Homo sapiens: one gene and its partner. The protein of the gene in region 1 purifies or fractionates together with the protein of each later gene. This does not show direct contact. Each region holds a gene or a part of one and is shown on either strand. Other genes may lie near its edges.

What was found.
Region 2: the proteins of TMEM35B (region 1) and CRYBG1 purify together in Homo sapiens (affinity purification with mass spectrometry; one large-scale study listed by BioGRID and IntAct). This does not show direct contact.

Annotation. Positions count from the first base shown.
Region 1 is NC_000001.11:34,982,548-34,986,665, forward strand, and holds the start of TMEM35B (transmembrane protein 35B precursor), read right to left. Parts: upstream 2,801-4,118; 5' UTR 2,759-2,800; coding exon 2,651-2,758; intron 1,401-2,650; coding exon 1,220-1,400; intron 1-1,219.
Region 2 is NC_000006.12:106,367,217-106,370,716, forward strand, and holds part of CRYBG1 (beta/gamma crystallin domain-containing protein 1), read left to right. Parts: intron 1-3,500. UniProt on the Homo sapiens protein: May function as suppressor of malignant melanoma. It may exert its effects through interactions with the cytoskeleton.

The DNA.
Region 1 (4,118 bases):
GGGCTACTGGGTTCTGGGTACTGGCTTCAAGCGATTCTCCTGCCTCAGCCTCCTGAGTAGCTGGGATTACAGGCGCGCACCACCACGCCCGGCTAATGTTTGTATTTTTAGTAGAGACGGGGTTTCATCATGTTGGTCAGGCTGGTCTTGAACTCCTGACCTTGTGATCCGCCCGCCTCGGCCTCCCAAAGTGCTGGGATTACAGGCATGAGCCACCGTGTCTGGCCCCTTCTCCTTTCTTAATCCTACATCTACTAAGATTAAGATGGAGGGAAGGACTAGCCCAGGGGCTGTTGGTTGGAGGTATGGGAAAGATCTGAAAATGGGAGAAGCTCCAGAGATGGAAGCAAGCCTGGTAGCAGTGGCAGCAATGGTAACAGATGCCAGGGCATATAGAAGAGCCTGAAGATATCTGGCCTTTGAAGCAACAGCTGTCTTTGTACATCAGCAGTTCCTGTGGGCAGAGCTACTTGAGGGGGACTCCCTAGGGAAATTCTCTGCCTTCCTGTTCAAGGTTCTCCAGCTTCCCTGCTCTCTACACCAATCTGCCAGACACATGCATCAAATGGCAGCTGCTCCTCCATCCCCTCATCCTAGGAGTGGATGTGTGGAGGAAGGAGCAGAGGCGCTGAGCTTGCAATATATCTTCACAAGGCAATACTATGCAGCCATTAGAATTGAGGAGGTAGAAGGTACACTTAACATGTGATAATGTTCTAGCACATTAAGTTTAAAAAGTACCTGTGCTAGGCCGGGCATAGTGGCTCAAGCCTGTAATCCTAGCACTTTGGGAGGCCAAGGCGGGCAGATCACGAGTTCAGGAGATCGAGACCATCCTGGCTAACATGGTGAAACCCTGTCTCTACTAAAAATACAAAAAAATCAGTCGGGCGCTGTGGCAGGCGCCTGTAGTCCCAGCTACTCGGGAGGCTGAGGCAGGAGAATGGTGTGAACCCAGGAGGCGGAGGTTGCAGTGAGCAGAGATAGTGCCACTGCAGTCCAGCCTGGGCGAAAGAGCGAGACTCCATCTCAAAAAAAAAAAAAAAAAAAAAAAAAAATACCTGTGCTAGTTTGAAGACCATGGAAACTGTGGTAGAGCAGAAAGTGCTCTTGATCCCAGAGAAAAAAGAAGGGTGGCAACAGTAAGGGGGAACAGCCAGGTCTTTCCATAATCCTCCCCCAGAAGACCCCATTTTCTCAGGCCAGTTGGCCCCCTTACCCATCATGAGCAGAATCAAGAACAAGTTACTGATCTCTTGCAGCATCGGTGGGCCCATGACCAGCAGCAACCCAGCCAGCAGTTCCAGAAAGCCCACAGCTATTTGGTAGTTCAGGGGATCTGGCTGGTAGCCAAATACCTTCAGCGGGAACACCTCAGCAAACTGCACGAACAGGGCATTCTAGGGGTGGCAAGGAATGCCTGTTAGCCTCATTGTTCAACAAGGATGAGCTCCCCAGATGCTCCATGGCATATCTATGCCTGTGCCCTCAACTTCCCAGAGAAAAGAACTACTACTCTAGGTCAGGTCCAGGGCTGAGGTCAGCCTGAAGAGGAGAGGGCTGCCCTGTGGCGCTGAGCTTTGGAATCAGGAAACAGGCTCCATGCTCCAAGTGGTACAGAGATTGATCTTCTCACTAGACCTCTCAAGAGATTACAACCCAGCCCCAAATCCCAGGAGGAGGGGGCTGGGCTTGGCTCCCTAGTGCCAAGGCCTGGGGAATTCCACAGTTTCCTTCTTTGTGTCTGGCCTGGTTTCTCTTAAGGCTGCTGTACAGGGAATATTTGGAGGTGAGGCAGAGTTAGGTGGGCTCAAAGTGACTCTTCTTGTCAAGGCAGGCCCTCCCCTGAGCCAAATGACAACTTCATCCTTACTTTCGGGGATACTTTTTCCTGTTCCCACTCCTCAGCTCTACCTCCCCTCCTCAGCTCTGCTGGGAAGCAGCTCTAAGCTGTCTGTCTCTGGGGATTTATCCAGGCCTTGGAGAGAGATGCCAGCAGAGGTCTACAAGTCTGGCTCTTTTGAGGGACTGGGGAGATTGGTGAACAGGATATGAAAGCTTTCCCATGAGTCTGGAACTAGACAGAAGGCTGAAAGACGACTTCAGGGCATCCCTCTCAGGCTTCCGAGAGAGGCTTCCCTCTCTGGGTTCCGAGTTAGGAGTGTCTAGCTTGTGTCCTGCTTCCTGACTAGATGTGCAATCTTTAGCAGATATACTTGCCCTTCAGGGCGGGCTTCCTTCCCTGCAAAGCCAGGATTACTACACCCCAACCCCACGAACCTCCCAAAAACTGAAGCAAACGGCGAAAAGAGGGAAGAGAGCGGGAAGTGAGCTCATTTTCCCACCGCATCATCCTCCCCCAGGGTCCGGGGGGGTGGGAGGGACCTCCTAAGGCTCTAGATTTGCCTGGGGCCACCAATATTCTGCAGGAAGGGGAGGTTCTGTCCCCTTCCGTCTAGGGAAGATCCAGAGAACTCGAGGAACTCCCCAGGCAGGACCTGCGCCTCAGTCGAAAGCCAGGCGCTTTCCCCCAGCTCCAGCTGAGCCTCGGAAGCCCGAAGGCGGCCTGCCGGGCCGGGGGCGAGGAGCGGCAGGGCGGAGCACACGCCGCCGCGGGCCCGATCCCCTGCCGCCCGCCCGCGCCGCTCACCATCCGCTCCGAAACTGGAGCCGAGATCTCCTCCGAGAGCTTGGCCAACCCCACGAGCGCGAAGAAGCCGCCCAGCAGTACACGCAGCACCGAAAGCAGGAGCGCCATGGCCGCGCTCCCCCCACCGTGGGTTGGCCCCGCCGAAAACCCGCCCCTGCCGCCGGCTCATTTCCTCCCTCCCCGGGGCAGCCGGAAGACTCTCGCCTGAGCTACCGTCCCCCACCCTCCAGGGGGTCGCGAGGCTGCAGTACTGGGGCAGGGCGCCCCCATCTTACAGGTGGGGACACTTGAGGACCACTGGCTGGTAACTGACTAAACAGGCACCTTTGGATTCAGGGAGTGTTTCCCAGCCAATACGGAGTGCTGGCAGACACGGGTGGGTGTCTGGGTGCGGTTCAGCTACCATCAAAAGACCCCGGGCTTCGTTCCTGCCTGTGCCACACTAGCTGTGGGATCTGAGCTGTCACCCACCCCAAAGGGCCTCAGTATCTGCATCTGTATATGGGGATAACTCAGTTCTCCAGAGTTTGTAACAGGCCTAGCACAGTGCCTGCACATGTAAGAGCTCAGAAAGTTATTTGTAAATTAGTAAATTAATTTATAAAATTGTAATAAATCAATAACCATTAATTATTAAATAAGTCTCTTTGCCTGAGATATCTTTTCCCTCTAATTTATCTCGGCTGACAATGAAATGTGAAAGGTGTTTGAAAATTCAGATACTTGCATGGATAGAGAGGCTTTCACTGAACCAAGCCCTACAGTCCACTCCTGGCCCATTTGCTCTTACCTGGAAATCTGTCTAAAGCTGGGATGGGCAAACCATGGGCCAAATTTGGCCAGATGTCTGATTTTTTTCCATGCTTCTCCCCTTCCCCCAAGCTAATAATGTTTGTTTACATTTTTTATGATAAAAACATTTTTTAAAGAAGCTTGTGTGACATAGGAAAATTATATGAAATTCATATTTCAGTGTTCATGAATAAGTTTTATTTAAAAACAGCCACACTTATCTGCATATTGTCTATGGCTGCTTTTGCACTGCAACTGCAGAATTGAGTAGTTGTGACAGTATGGCCTGCAAAGCTGAAAATATTTACTATCTGGCTCTTTATTTAAAAAGTTTGCTAAGCCCTGGTATATTGGGCCAGAAAGGCCCCAAGCAGGGGTCTCAAATCCCCCTGCTGCTTCCATTTATAGTTACCCAAGCTGCTTAGATCTATCTTTTTCCAGCTGGGCACGTTGGCTCACACTTGTAATCCCAGCACTTTGGGAGGCCGAGGCAGGTGGATCACTTGAGGTCAGGAGATAGAGACCAGCCTGACCAATATGGTGAAACCCCGTCTCTACTAAAAAAAATACAATAGACGGGCATGGTGGCACATGCCTGTAACCCCAGCTACTTGGAAGGCTGAGGCAGGAGAATTGTTTGAACCTAGGAGGCAGAGGTTCCAGTGAGCCAAGATCA
Region 2 (3,500 bases), on another chromosome or scaffold:
ACATAAACCCTTTTGGGGACCTTTAGTAAGACCTTCGAAACTTGAGTTCACTTCTTTTTTCTTCTTTAGCTCTTTTTTAAAAAAATATTGGGCCAGGTGTGGTGGCTCACACCTGTAATCCCAGCACTTTGGGAGGCCAAAGTGGGCGGATCACAAGGTCAGGAGATCCAGACCATCCTGGTCAACATGGTGAAACCCCGTCTCTACTAAAAATACAAAGATTAGCTGGGCGTGGTGGCATACGCCTGTAATCCCGTCTACTTGGGAGGTTGAGGCAGGAGAATCACTTGAACCAGGGAGTCAGAGGTTGCAGTGAGCCAAGATTGTGCCACCGTACTCCAGCCTGGCAACAGAGCCAGACTCTGTCTAAAAAAAAAAAAAAAAAAAAATCAAATACATATATACTCCCTTTTTCATTAATAGTTTTGCCAGAATGTATGGCTTTTGATTATAAATCTTATTTTTAGGTCAGCATGGTGGCTCATGCCTGTAATCCCAGCACTTTGGGATGCTGAGACAGGAGGATTGCTTGAGCCTAGGAGTTCAAGACAGCCTAGGCAACAAACTCAGACCCTGCTTATCCAAAAAAAAAAAAAAAAAATTAGCCAGGTGTGGTGGCACACACCTGTGGTCTCAGCTACTGGGGAGGCTGAAGTGGGAGGATCATTTGAGCCCAGGAGTTATGATCATGCTACTGCACTCTAGCCTGGGTGACAGAGTGAGACCTTGTCTCTAAAATAATCGTAATAATAAATGAGTACATCTTTTTTGTAAGCTGAGATAGTGAGTTGCTGCTGTAGTATTTGTCCACAATTAAAACAATGTAGTAAACATATTAGATATTGAAATAGTTTCTAATTCCTAATAGTCATTCAAAATACATATCTTACTATGAACATTAAAAATACATATCTGAGCCAGGCATGGTGGCTCACACCTATAATCCCAGCACTTTGGGAGGTGGAGGCAGGTGGATCACTTACTTGAGGCCAGGAGTTTGAGAGCAACCTGGTCAACATAGCGAGATCCCATCTCTTAAAAAAGATACATACACACACATACACACACACACACACACATCTGTCTTAAAGTTTGAGTTCAGCTAAGGGGTCAGTTATGTTTCAGGAATGTCCATGCAGAAGAAAAGTGATTTATGTATTGAAAATCTGTGTCTGGTCAACATGAGAAGATCGTTTGAAGCTTGAATGGTGTGTTCTTCTGTCTACCTTGAAAAACTTGTCCCAAAGTGAGTTTTCAAGATACAGGATGTATGACTGTCTAATGCTTGTGAGGAGCTTAGCAAGAATGACCAGCGAATTGCTTATGAGTCTCATTAGCTCATTTACAGTTGCCTTAAAACATAGCTGCATTGGGCTAACCCAAATGCCTCATCAACATACCTGTACAGATTCAAATATATGAGAAGTCTTCCCTCTAGAGAGTGAGCCCTTGCTTAGTGCTGCCTTTACAGCACTGTGCATCTTCTGGATTGTTCCGTTCAGTGGAAGAGAAGCAATGACCCCTCATAACAGAGACCTAGATTGAGTTGCTAATTATTCAGCCAGTATACAGTATATACTATAGTGTGGTTACTGAGATACTGAATAGTTTAAGAGTTTCTGCCATAATTAGTACCTCACCTACTACTTAAAAAAAAATAAACAACCATAACTTAATTCATGTTTTCAAAAAAAATTTAAAGCTTGAAGGAACCATATTTGTAACAACAAAATGTCACTTAAAATGATGGAGCCTATCAATATATTGTTACCTATGCAAGAACTCCCTTTACAGAGCTTGAAGTAATGCTAGTAATGTGACACATAATATATTTTATTCATGATTTGTCATTTAAATGTGTTCAGAATACTGATGGATTCATAAATATCTCATGAAAGCATACATTTTGACAAAGTACCAGGAGGCCCAAGGACATACAAATGGGGCAGAGAATCAGAATCCATTTGCAGTGTCCCCGACCTCTCTCACTGGCATGTTATAGACAAGTAAAGGTTGCACCCATAGCTAACACACACAAAAAGAAACACAATTAACAAGTACCTTTTGTTTGTTACCTTCTCATAAATGGCAATTAAATGAGTAAAAGTAGGTTGGTGTTAAGCTTGGCAAAAGATACTGTGGGGAAGAAAGTTGGCTGCTGGTTGTGTTTATTGTTTGTGCCATTTCAAGCTAGCAACCCTAACTGAGTCTCAGTCATTAGAATTTAGGTTTATTCCAAAGGTAATATCGACAGCTCAAATATGAGATTTGGCCAACAGTTACATAAAGTCACCATGCAGAGTACACCTCTTAATTTTTTTCAAATTTGTTTATAAGTAGTAGCATAAGCTCATGATAGTCTTTGGATTCGTTTTTTAATCTTATGATTAGGATCAAGGGTCAAAATAATATATGCTGCATATAAGATAAGAAAATAGAGGAAGCATGTGCTTTATAATAACTTCAGACCATGTCTGTGAAAACATTGTTTCCCATCAATATTTGATTGAGAGATGCAGTTTATTCAATATGCACTATGTATCAGACACTGTTCTAAGTGCTTTACAAATATTAACCCACTACAGTTAATTTATAACTTTCCTCAGAGGTAGGCACTATTATTAGTCCCATATTGAGGAAAAATCAGGCACAGAGGGGTATGATTATTTGGTCAAAGTCACAGAGCTCATTAAGAGTGAGGCTGGGATTCCCCAGCCGGTGATCTTGAGTCCTTGTGGTTAATCACTGCAGGTAAATCCCTGCAAGTTAATCACTGTGGTTAATGGTGCTTTCTTTATATTCTTATATGAGTTCATTTAGCCTCTAGATCTCACAAGTAGAAATTAAAATACATATGATAAATTAAGTTTTGGTACTAGACAATTTCTACGTTAAATAGTGGAAAGAAATATGTTAATTAATAGAAATATAAGTTCATTAAAATCTTAGATGAAAAAAGATTTTAAAACAGAAATTCAAAAGTATATATTATAAATGAAAGTATCATGTGTAGATTCTGAGTTTGGGGCTTCTGCCCAAGCTGTGTCAGAAAAAAGCATTACCAAGAGGTGGACCTACTTCGTACCCCTTCTTCTGCCCTGACACAGGCAGGAGAATGCAAGGTCAGAGATAAGTGGTAGATGGGGGGCCCTCTAGTTGCTGCCCATGCTAAAGAGGCATGGCAGAATTTCTCAAGTAGTTGCTTTACCAGTTGCTGCAGAAAGCTGCTCCTGGCTGCTCTAACTTTAGGCCTCTAGAAGCCCTGCTGCTTGAATCCATTGGTTTTACCTCCTGACTTATTCTTGAGGATTCCCTGGCAATGAATACAGGTTCCACCTTACATTGACCTTACACTTCAAGGATTGTAAACCATTGCTGATACTTTATCCCACTTGAGGCTTATAAGGGTTCTGTGAAATAAGCCCATACCCTCATTCTGAGGATAAGGAAACTGAAGTTCATGGAAGGTAATGCAGGTGGAGGAAGCAGGACTAAAACTC